Homo sapiens: one gene and its partners. The protein of the gene in region 1 interacts with the protein of each later gene in a pairwise test. Each region holds a gene or a part of one and is shown in the gene's direction. Other genes may lie near its edges. The genes, in order: CUL4B, UBXN7 and ZMAT4.

What was found.
Region 2: the proteins of CUL4B (region 1) and UBXN7 interact in binary tests that used the Homo sapiens proteins (3 or more experiments, as listed by UniProt).
Region 3: the proteins of CUL4B (region 1) and ZMAT4 interact in binary tests that used the Homo sapiens proteins (3 or more experiments, as listed by UniProt).

What each region holds. Positions count from the first base shown.
Region 1 is NC_000023.11:120,529,843-120,533,498, reverse strand, and holds part of CUL4B (cullin-4B), read left to right. Parts: intron 1-904; coding exon 905-1,077; intron 1,078-3,244; coding exon 3,245-3,397; intron 3,398-3,656.
Region 2 is NC_000003.12:196,369,793-196,373,448, reverse strand, and holds part of UBXN7 (UBX domain-containing protein 7), read left to right. Parts: intron 1-1,406; coding exon 1,407-1,553; intron 1,554-3,656. UniProt on the Homo sapiens protein: Ubiquitin-binding adapter that links a subset of NEDD8-associated cullin ring ligases (CRLs) to the segregase VCP/p97, to regulate turnover of their ubiquitination substrates.
Region 3 is NC_000008.11:40,674,220-40,677,875, reverse strand, and holds part of ZMAT4 (zinc finger matrin-type protein 4), read left to right. Parts: intron 1-2,944; coding exon 2,945-3,172; intron 3,173-3,656.

The sequences.
Region 1 (3,656 bases):
TAGCATAGAATCATGAAGAATCATGAAGAGCTTAATTGTAACATAGAATAGTGAGTTAAAAAATTAGGTAAGATGAGTAGGGCCTGATTGTGGAGAACCTGATAAGTCTAGCAAATGAAACCTACACTGTAGTGTCTCAACTATGTGGCATGGTGGAAGTAATTATTTGGACCACTTACTGAAATCAATCTACAGGGCAACTGGAAGGATCAAGGGATTCCAGTTTAGATGCTATTGGGATGATTCAGGCATAAAGTAGAAGGGACTTAGACTAGAATGAGACCATGAAAATGGAGAAAACTCATCTCTGCGGAAGCAGCGGCTAGCTATTATGTTGAGGATGAAGGAGAAGGAAAAGTTAAAAGATGATTTTAGGGTTTCCCAACTGAGAAGGTTAGTGGTATCACCACTGACAATTGGAAAGAGGACACAGTTATATGGAGATGATGAATCAAATTTTGGACGTAACTACAGTTGATAGTAAAACAGCCAGGCGGAATTGCCCTTTAAACGTGCAACTGGAGAGAAGTGAAATGTCATTTTGGAATATTTGGTAGTTGCCCACATGGTATGATAATTGACGTCTTTAAAAGAGGACTAGGGGCCGGGCGTGGTGGCTCACATCTGTAATCCCAGCACTTTGGGAGGCCAAGGCGGGTGGATCACTTGAGCTCAGGAGTTTGAGACCAGCCTGGGCAACATGGTGAAACCCCGCCTCTATTTTTTTTAAAAAAGAAGAGGACTAGGAAAAAAGCCATTGGCTAGAACAAAGAAAAGTTGTTGGTGACCTTTGGGAAAAAATGAAATAGTTTTAATAGGGGGATGGAGTGGAAGCTAGATTGAGGTAGAATGTCGTAGTTGTTCATGCTGGTAACAAATAACTAAACCTCTGTTTCTTCTTCAGAGGATGGAGAGTTAAGGAGAACACTGCAGTCATTAGCCTGTGGCAAAGCTAGAGTTCTGGCGAAAAATCCAAAGGGCAAAGACATTGAAGATGGTGACAAGTTCATTTGTAATGATGATTTCAAACATAAACTTTTCAGGATAAAGATCAATCAAATCCAGATGAAAGAAACGGTATTTCTTTCACTTTCTCTTAGTCCTAACACACTGGAATTATACATGTTAATAATCAAAATATATAAAGATTTTTATACCTGTAATACTGCCAATACCATTAATATTTTTTGTGTCTATGTCCAGCTAAATATGTTTCCTGATTTGATTTTGGGTGTTTGGGAGAGTGGTTGTACAGGATTGAGATGATACTCAACATAGTTTCATATCTTACTTTGTTTATTTAGTATTCAATCTTTAGAATTTTTCCATGCCATTAAATAGCTTCGAAAAATGGCAGATGGCAGTGTAATATTTTTACATGGCTCTTATAGTTTGTTCAACCACTGTTCATTTTGGGGCAATTAAATTCATGACTTATTAGTATTATAAATAAGATTGCAAGAAACCTCTTTGAAACTAAATTTTAATCTCTGATATATGATAAATTTGTGGAAGTAGATTTTTTTGGGTTAAAGGGTATGAACATTTTAGGAGTCTTAGTACATAATGTCATATTGTGTTCCGGAAAGGCTGGACCAGTTTATACTCTGTCCAGCAGCATATGAGAGCCTGTCTTACTATGTCCCCCAGCACTAAAGATTATATTTTCTTTTGCCAACTTGCTTGGTGAAAAATCTGAATTGATTTATTCACTATTTATTTGATTAACAGTGAAGGTGGGCCAGGTACGGTGGTTCACACCTGTAATCCCAGTACCTTGGGAGGCCGAGGCGGGCAGATCACCTGAGGTCAGGAGTTCAAAACCAGCTTGGCCAACATGGCGATACCCTGTCTCTACTAAAAATACAAAAATCAGCTGGGCGTGGTGGTGCGTGCTTGTAGTCCCAGCTACTTGGGAGGCTGAGGCATGAGAATCACCTGAACCCGGGATGTGGAGGTTGCAGTGAGCTGAGATCGCGCCACTGCACTGCAGCCTGGGTGACAGTGAGACTCTGTTTAAAAAAAAGAAAAAAAAAACAAAAACAGGGAAGGTGAATATTTTGTTTGTTTTTGCCATTTGAATTTGTAAGAGACTTCCAACTGCAGCATCCTGAAACTGATGGTTTCAGTTCCAATAAGGTTTAATGCAATATTTGAAAAAAAAAAAATTTTTTTTTTGAGGTGGAGTCTCACTCTGTCACCCAGGCTGGAGTCAGTGGCACGATCTTGGCTCACTGCAGCCTCCGCCTTCCAGGTTCAAGCGATTATCCTGCCTCAGCCTCCTGAGTAGCTGGGACTACATGCGTGAGCGACCATGCCCGGCTAATTTTTGTATTTTAAGTAGAGATGGGTTTTCACCATATTGACCAGGCAGGTCTTGAACTCCTGACCTCATGATCCGCCCATCTCGGCCTCCCAAAGTGCTGGAATTATAGGTGTGAGCCACTGAGCCCGACTGAAAAAATTTTAATGTAGGACAGCGACCAGTATCTCCAAACAAGTTCCTGTCATTTTCACATACACATCAAAGACAGGATATTTTCTTAAAGGATTACCATGTCCTTACTTTTAAAACATTTATGCTGTACCAGGAAGAAACTGCTGCAAAAAGGCCAAACTGTTTTTTTGGTTTAATTACTAAAGATGAACATTTTTACTTTAGCATCAAGATTGGTAAACCGCCTCCTAAATACCTACATTTCTGTAAGTCTTGAAGGATTGTAAGCACTAATGGCATGCATGTCTGATTTATATATTACAAAATAAAAATTAATTTTCAAAGAGGTTGACTCTTAACTAGTTTGCTTAGCCAGTTAATACCATGCCTTGAGTCAGAGATCAGACAGAGTCACCTTATAGACAAGCTATTGTCATAGAGAAATCTGGTTAACAATCCATTGAAACTGATACACACATTTAGAAGATATATCAAAGACAGAGTAAAAAAACAAAATGGTAAATTCCACATCAGCTATCTCTACTTCTAGAAAAGCAATTCAAAGATGATGTTTTTCTATTAACTAATATTAGCATTACTTCATTGGTATAGGGCAATATAATCAGAACAGAAAGGAGTTATGTTTGTAGGATTTTTCTCTGTCAGCATCTATATTTATAAGACCCCATTTAGATAATTCAGTACCTTTAAAGCAATAACAATGTCATGTCCCTAAAATGCACAATTTATGTAAATAGTCAGGTTTTGCTTCTGGTATAATTCCTAGGTTTAAAACTTTTTTGTTAGGTTGAAGAACAAGCAAGCACTACAGAAAGAGTATTTCAAGACAGACAGTATCAAATTGATGCTGCAATTGTTCGAATTATGAAGATGAGAAAGACACTTAGCCACAATCTCCTTGTTTCAGAAGTGTACAACCAGTTGAAATTTCCAGTAAAGGTAGGTACTTCTGTGTTTTCCTATTGAGCGTGTTATAAATAAAAGAAAGTACATTAGATTTTCAGACACAAATCTTGCAAACATAAAGCGTCATGACCATTTAGAGAGAGAAAAGTTTTAATTTCCCATGTTGATGCATATGATTTCCAAAAAAAAAAACTTTGTTGGCATATGTGGGCAGCAGTGACAAAAGGGAAAAATAACAGAAAAGCCTGGATACCTGAAAGTTTAACTGCTAAATGAGTGTTTGAAATTTTCA
Region 2 (3,656 bases), on another chromosome or scaffold:
TTGAGGCAGCATTTGCTTATTTGCTTTTCTGCCATTGTTTTCCACTCAGCAGCATTTCATGGGTCTTTATGCTGACAAGGGACTGACAGGCAAAAAGTACGCACTAACGATTGATGTATCGATATCTGTTGTACGAATCGTAGAGTTGTTTGGGGATCATTCTCAAACATTCTTTGACCTTGTAATCCCAATTTTTGGAATCTACTCCTAGGAAGACAACTCTTAAGAGAAAAAACTCTCAGCAGTTTTTACTAAAATGTTTAGGGTGATTCTCCAAAACAGCATATATGCCTAATAACTGAGATTAATATGATGTTTAAAAATGTTCCAGAAATGATGTTGAAGAAAACAAAGTAAAATATACACACCAATTGCATTCATTAAAAAGAAGTATAATTGGCTGGGCGCGGTGGCTCACGCCTATAATCCCAGCACTTTGGGAGGCTGAGATGGGTGCGTCACCTGAGGTCAGGAGTTTGAGACCAGCCTGGCCAACATGGTGAAACCCCGTCTCTTTACTAAAAATATATAAAAAATTAGTCAGGCATGGTGGCACACACCTGTAATCCCAGCTACTCGGTAGGCTAAGGCAGAAGAATCACTTGAACCTAGTAGGTGGAGGTTGTAGTGAGCCGAGATCGTGCCATTGTTCTCCGACTTAGGCAACAAGAGCAAAGCTCGTCTCAAAAAAAAAAAAAATTGTTGATGGAGGTTGCAAGAGAATAAAATTACGTGACTTGTTGATCTTAAGTTTGTTGAATCCTTTTCAGGTAAAGATGTTTAAACATACATTAAAAATTCAGCCATTACCGGTCATGATGAGTCACACCTGTAATTCCAGCACTTTGGGAGGCCAAGGTGGACGGGTCATTTGAGGTCAGAAGTTCGAGACCAGCCTGGCCAACATGTTGATACCCCATCTCTACTAAAAATACAAAAATCAGCCAGGCGTGTTGGGGCACGCCTTTAATCCCAACTACTTGGGAGGCTGCGGCGGGAGAATCACTTGAACTCAGGAGGTGGAGGTTGCAGTGAGCCGAGACTGCCCCACTGTACTCTAGCCTGGGCAATAGAGTTAGACTCTGTCTCAAAAAAAAAAAAAAAAGAAAGAAAGAAAGAAAGGAGAGAGAGAGAGAGAGAGAGAGAGAATCAGCTATTATAACAAATAACTGGATAAAAGAGAAATGAGTTCATTTAAATTTGAGCAGTGCTTGAAATGGACAGTATAGCTATAAATGCATATGCGAAGTAAATATATAGAATGTATAAATGCTGAAAACTCTAGATGTCGTATCTGGCAAAAACTTAGTATTTTTAATGAAAGACAACAACCTCTGAACAACTACGGAAACATCTGTCACTAAGTAGAAATTATTTCTAACAAATGTGTAACTTTACTCTTGCAGGCCAAAGAGTGTGGCCAGATGCAAAATAAGTGGCTGATGATAAACATTCAAAATGTTCAAGACTTTGCATGTCAGTGCCTCAACCGCGATGTGTGGAGCAACGAAGCTGTGAAGAATATTATCCGGGAACATTTCATTTTCTGGCAGGTGAGAAGGAGAGTTAATCAGAAGTTTTGTAGAATTTTACTTTTGTAGTGTGGGTTGTTGAGGGAAAGGAATTGGGTTATAATGAATTAAGACATTTAAAAAAAGGTAAAGCCGGCTGGGGGCAGTAGCTCACGCCTATAATCCCAGCACTTTGGGAGGCTGAGGCCGGCGGATCACCTGAGGTCAGGAGTTTGAGACCAGCCTGGCCAACATGGTGAAACCCTGTCTCTCCTAAAAATACAAAAAATCAGCCAGGTGTGGCAGCAGGCACCTGTAATCCCAGCTACTCGGGAGGCTGAGGCAGGAGAATCACTTGAACCCGGGTAGCGGAGACTGCAGTGAGCCAAGATCACACCATTACACTCCAGCCTGAACAATAGAGCTAGACTCCATCTCAAACAAAACAAAACAAACAAACTGTACTGTTCAGTAGAAATATATTGTAAGCTGTACACATAATTTAAATTTTTCCAGTAGCCACATTAAAAAAGATTAATCAAAATAGATGAAATTAACTGTAATAATGTATTTGGTTAAATCAATATATCTATATAACTAATACAAAAATAATGAGATGATCTGCATTTATTTGGTGTTGAGTCTTCAAGATATGGTTTGTATTTTATACTTACACCCCTTCTCCATTTGGAGTAGCAAGATTTCAGGTGCTTCAGTAGCCACTTGTGGGTAGTGGTTGCTGTATTAGACAGTGCAGGTATAGAAGATCTTGAGGTAATTGGAAGCATTTGGCTAAGACTTAGATTTTAGCTTGAGTTTGATACTTTTTAACTCTGTGTTCTTAGACATGTCACTTTAGTCTTCCCAGCTAATGAGATAAGGTTACAGACCTTGTATCATTTTTCCCCCACTGTGAGACAGGGTTTTGCTCTGTCACCCAGGCTGCAATGCAGTGGCATGAACATGGCTCAGCCTTGACCTCCTGGGCTCAAATGATCCTTCCACCTCAGTTTCTTGAGTAGTTGGGACCACAAACATGCACCACTATGCCCATATAATTTTTTTTTTTTTTTTTTTTTTGTAGAGATGGGGTCCTGCCATATTGCCCAGGCTCGTCTCGAACTCCTGGGCCCAAGCCATCTGCTTCCCTTGGCTTCCCAAAGTGCTGGGATTATAGGCATGAATCACCGTGCCGGCTCAATTTTTTTATTTTTTATTTTGTGAAAAGTTATAGAAAATAAAAACTTATGAAGGAGCTTAATTTTTTCCCCTACTGTAAGATATGCTATTAATGTTATTAATTTGCCTGTTTATATTTTACAGGCCCCTAAATTTAATGTAACTTTAATGGTAAAATTCCTTGTATTTTATTCAACAAATATTGATCGAGCAGCTCTTTGCTTAGCACTGTGCTGGACTCTTGAGCTTATAATCTTTTTTTCTTTCTTTCTTTTCTTTTCTTTTTTCTTTTTTTTTTTAAATAAATGGACAGGGTCTTGCTCTGTCACCCAGGCCGGAACACAGTGGTGCAGTCATAGCTCACTGCAGGCTCTAACCCCTATAGGCTCAAGGGATCTTCCCACCTCAGTCTCCTGAGTTGCTGGGACTATAGGTGCACACCATTAAACCTGGCTAATTTAAAAACAAACAAACAAACAAAAAAAAACAAAAAAACTTCTCGTGGAGATGCCCAGGCTGGTCTCAAACTCCTGGCCTCAAGCTGTCCTCTGCCTCTGCCCTACAAAGTGCTAGGGTTATAGGTGCGAGCCACCATGTGGAGCCATAATCTTTTTTTTTTTTTTTTTTTTTTGAGACAAGTCTTGCATTGTCGCTGGGCAGGAGTGCAGTGGCACGATCTCAGCTCACTGCAGTCTCTGCCTCCCGGGTTCAAGCGATTCCCCTGCTTCAGTCTCCCGAGTAGCTGGGACTACAAGCGCCTGTCACCAGGCCCGGCTAATTTTTGTATTTTAGTAGAGACGGGGTTTCACCATGTTGGCCAGGATGGTCTCAATCTCCTGACCTTGTGATCCACTCGCCTCGGCCTCCTAAAGTGCTGGGATTACAGGCGTGAGCCACCATGCCTGGCCCATAATCTTAATATATTGTGATTTATTAAGATGTATATGGTTGAGAGTTATGAATGAC
Region 3 (3,656 bases), on another chromosome or scaffold:
TAAAGTAAATATTTAGTTAATATTTTTTGCAATTAGAATAAAAACAAACTATGAAATCAAAATAGAAATTAACTACATGTCAACTAAAGTGTTTTTTAAAGCATGTTTTTAAACCAAAAGATAATCTTTGCCCCATTCTTCATTCATTTTATTGGAATAATACACTCTGCCAAAGCATGTAAGTGTTAGGGTTCATGTACACACACAGATTTATCATTAAAACCTGGAAACTGCTCTCCTCCCACATAATTTCTATATTTGGTATTGAATCAAAGCTGTAGAAGGGACAGAGCTTCCACAATTTGTTCTGTCCACACCCTATGGGTTAGCTGCAAAGTATGTTAATTTTAAAAGAGATGGTGTGTCTGAATTTTTACCTTGAGGAAACCAGGGACGTTAGAAATTTGCCAAAGGTCACACAGCTCACTGATAGTGGAGTCCCACCCAACCAGAGTTCTGTCTTTGATTCAAGGCTGTTTTTATGCTACTGCCTTTGCCTGCTTTTATAGGCACTAAAGGAATATAAGCTGGGTTGAAATGAGTGAAGACAGTTACAACAGAAGCAAAAAAAAAAAAAAAATCCTTTAAACTTTCAGACTATACACAAGATAGTGGAATTATTCAGAGGGAGAAGCTACATCAAATTACTTTCTTATGTGCAAGATAAGATTATCTTATTTGATGAATATTCTATTGTGCCTCACTCCTACCAGGATATGGTGTAGAAGGTATCAGTTGATAAAATCGACTAAAATGTTTTATAGGGCTTACTTTAAAGAAAAATAAATTATGCTTCAAGAGTCAACATTTATTCATATTGTAGACATTTGATATGTTTTCCATTGCCATCAAAAACAATAGCTAATTATAAATCCTCAGAAATTGATAAGGATTTGGGAAGCTTTGAAAGTGAGATTCAATTACCTTCAGAAAAGTGGATAGAGATCTTTTCACATCCAGGTCAACTGCATATTTGTAGCTTTTATTTCTAAGTCATAGCAGAATGATACTGGGTGGCTGCTGGAATGGCCCACATTTGAGCTTTATTTCTACATGGTGATAACATGACCAAATCCCACAATGAGTCTTTTAAGGGGCGTACTGTTTGTGAGTCCCTGTAAAAATAACACCATTAAGTTTAATCTAAACTAGCTAAAACTTCTCGATATAATGAAATCTCTGGATAAAGAAAAAAGAGCTTCTTAGAAATACTGTTATGATACAGGCATTACTTGAATTAAAATGTCACTTAACAAGTATTTGTTTCTATATAAGTTATTTAATCAAAAAAAAAGTCCACCTAAAAGTTACCTGAAAGCTTGGGGTGTTGGTTAATTGGTTCCTTAACTTGTTATTGAGGTCTCGGACCTCAGCTTTTCCTTGGAACGACAACCCTAATGCTCGTGGTTTTGCCAGCTGCATCCTACATCTCAGAGACCAAGAACACACACAGGATGCTGCTATACTGCTTTAGGACTAATGGCCCATGTGAGAATTTACATACTGATTTCTTCTCCAAAATATTTGGATCGGAATATTTTTTCCAAAATTTAATGAAATCCTATATGAAATAGAAAGATGATGGATCTAGAAAAAAAGTCCCTTAGCTTATTAAGAAGTATGAAAAGGATCCTTGGGAAAGTATTGAAGGGAACATTGGCTTTGGGAATTCCAGATTTCATTTTAGTCCTGTTTTTCCCATCACTAGATATCTCACCTTCAGTAAGCCACTGGCATTTCTGAAATCAATCTCTCATCTGAGAAATGGGATAAAAGGCCAAGTCATAGTCCTTGTAAGGATGGAAGCAACTTGTATGTTGTAATACATAGAAAAGTTATTTTTACTTTCCATTAGTAAGCTCCTTCAAGTTAGGCTCTTTTTTGTTTGTTTGTTTTCTGGACCAGAAATAATCCTAAGCTCACAGTAAAATGTGTTAATTTAATAGGTGGAACAATGCAATCTCAAAATAGTGATACATGTCTATTCTGTTTAGATAAGTACACCTGATCTATAGTATTTTTCTTTTGATTTTTAAAAAAACATTGTTATTTCAGCATCAACGTGAGCAGGTAGAGGTTGAAAACAGCCTATTACAATAAACTGAAGCAGCTGACAATAAAATTAGCATGACTTCCTCAATTAATGCAACCCATGTCACCAAAAGATCAGTTTCTACCACTTAGCCAAATCCTTTATTTATTGGTTAATTACATTTATAGCACACAAACGTCCAATTCATTCATTCGGAATCTTTTAAGTCATGACTGTCCAATGTTTACTTCAAGTATTAGCTTTATTTTGACTGATAGATCACTCCCTTACCTCTAAGAATTTATTTATTTAGTTGCATTTTATCCAATATTTATTTTTAGTGTTATACACACACAAAAATAATTGAAGGCAATTACAATAGGCTTATTGCATTATTAGTGATGCTAGAAAAATTAAGTTATTGCTCAAGTTTTACCTGGCTCATTGAGCTTGTCCCCTGTATTTTACTACATTTTTTTTCTCTAAATGCCAATGTTAGAGCAGAATGCATTTTAAAAGTGAGTGGGAAAGGCCTTCAATAACCGTGTTTTCAAAGCTACTCCAGGCAGCCAAATACTTAGAGCTACTGTCCATAGCTCCTGAGAGCCACAGTGGGAATAACTGAGAATTTATTTTTAAAAATCTTATTATTCCCCTAAGGGATGGTCTCTTGAATTATCAGATTTTGGTATAACGACATGCAAACTCTGATCTCAATACATTAAGAATTTTTATTTGTGTCCCAACTCAAAAATGAAAGCTGGCAGGGCTAATTTTCCTGCTGTCAATGAACTCTTGGGGATGTTTAAGCTCTAGAGTGAACAGGAGACTTTTGGTCTTCGGGTATTGAGGAAGAGTGGACTCAGTGTTGGACTAACGTGGCTGTGGTTCTCTGGTTGTTTCCTTTCACAGCAACACCCCTGAGCCCACTTAAGCCCCCACGGATGGACACTGCTCCGGTGGTCGCATCTCCCTATCAAAGAAGAGATTCAGACAGATACTGTGGGCTCTGTGCAGCCTGGTTTAATAACCCTCTGATGGCCCAGCAACATTATGATGGCAAGAAACACAAAAAGAATGCGGCAAGAGTTGCTTTGTTAGAACAACTGGGGACAACCCTGGATATGGGGGAACTGAGAGGTAAGGGCAGCTCTTCTCACTTCTGCCACAAAACTGGGCTTTCAGAGAAAAGATGCGGCTTTCACAAATCGGAATGATTCTTCTTCTTGCTTTAATTATTAAGGAAAAAGTGAGGCTCACCCAAAAGAAATGGACAAGAAAGGAAATGAGCAGAAGGCTTGCTTTAGTTTAATTTTTATAATCTCCTTTGTTTCAAAGTGTTTATTTTCATATTTTTATTGACTGCTTTTCAGACCAAAGGCACATTCATGAACCAGATTGTTTTCCTTCTGCTTTATCTTTAACTGCCTTCTTTACCAAATGCTTTTGTAGAGTAGCAGTGTTTAAAAAAGAAAAAAAAGATGCTGAATGGGAGGCTGAGGTGGGCAGATTGCCTGAGGTCAGGAGTTCAACACCGGCCTGGCCAATATGGTGAAACCCCGTCTGTATTAAAATACAAAAATTAACCAGGTGTGGCAGTGCGCACCTATAATCCCAGCTACTT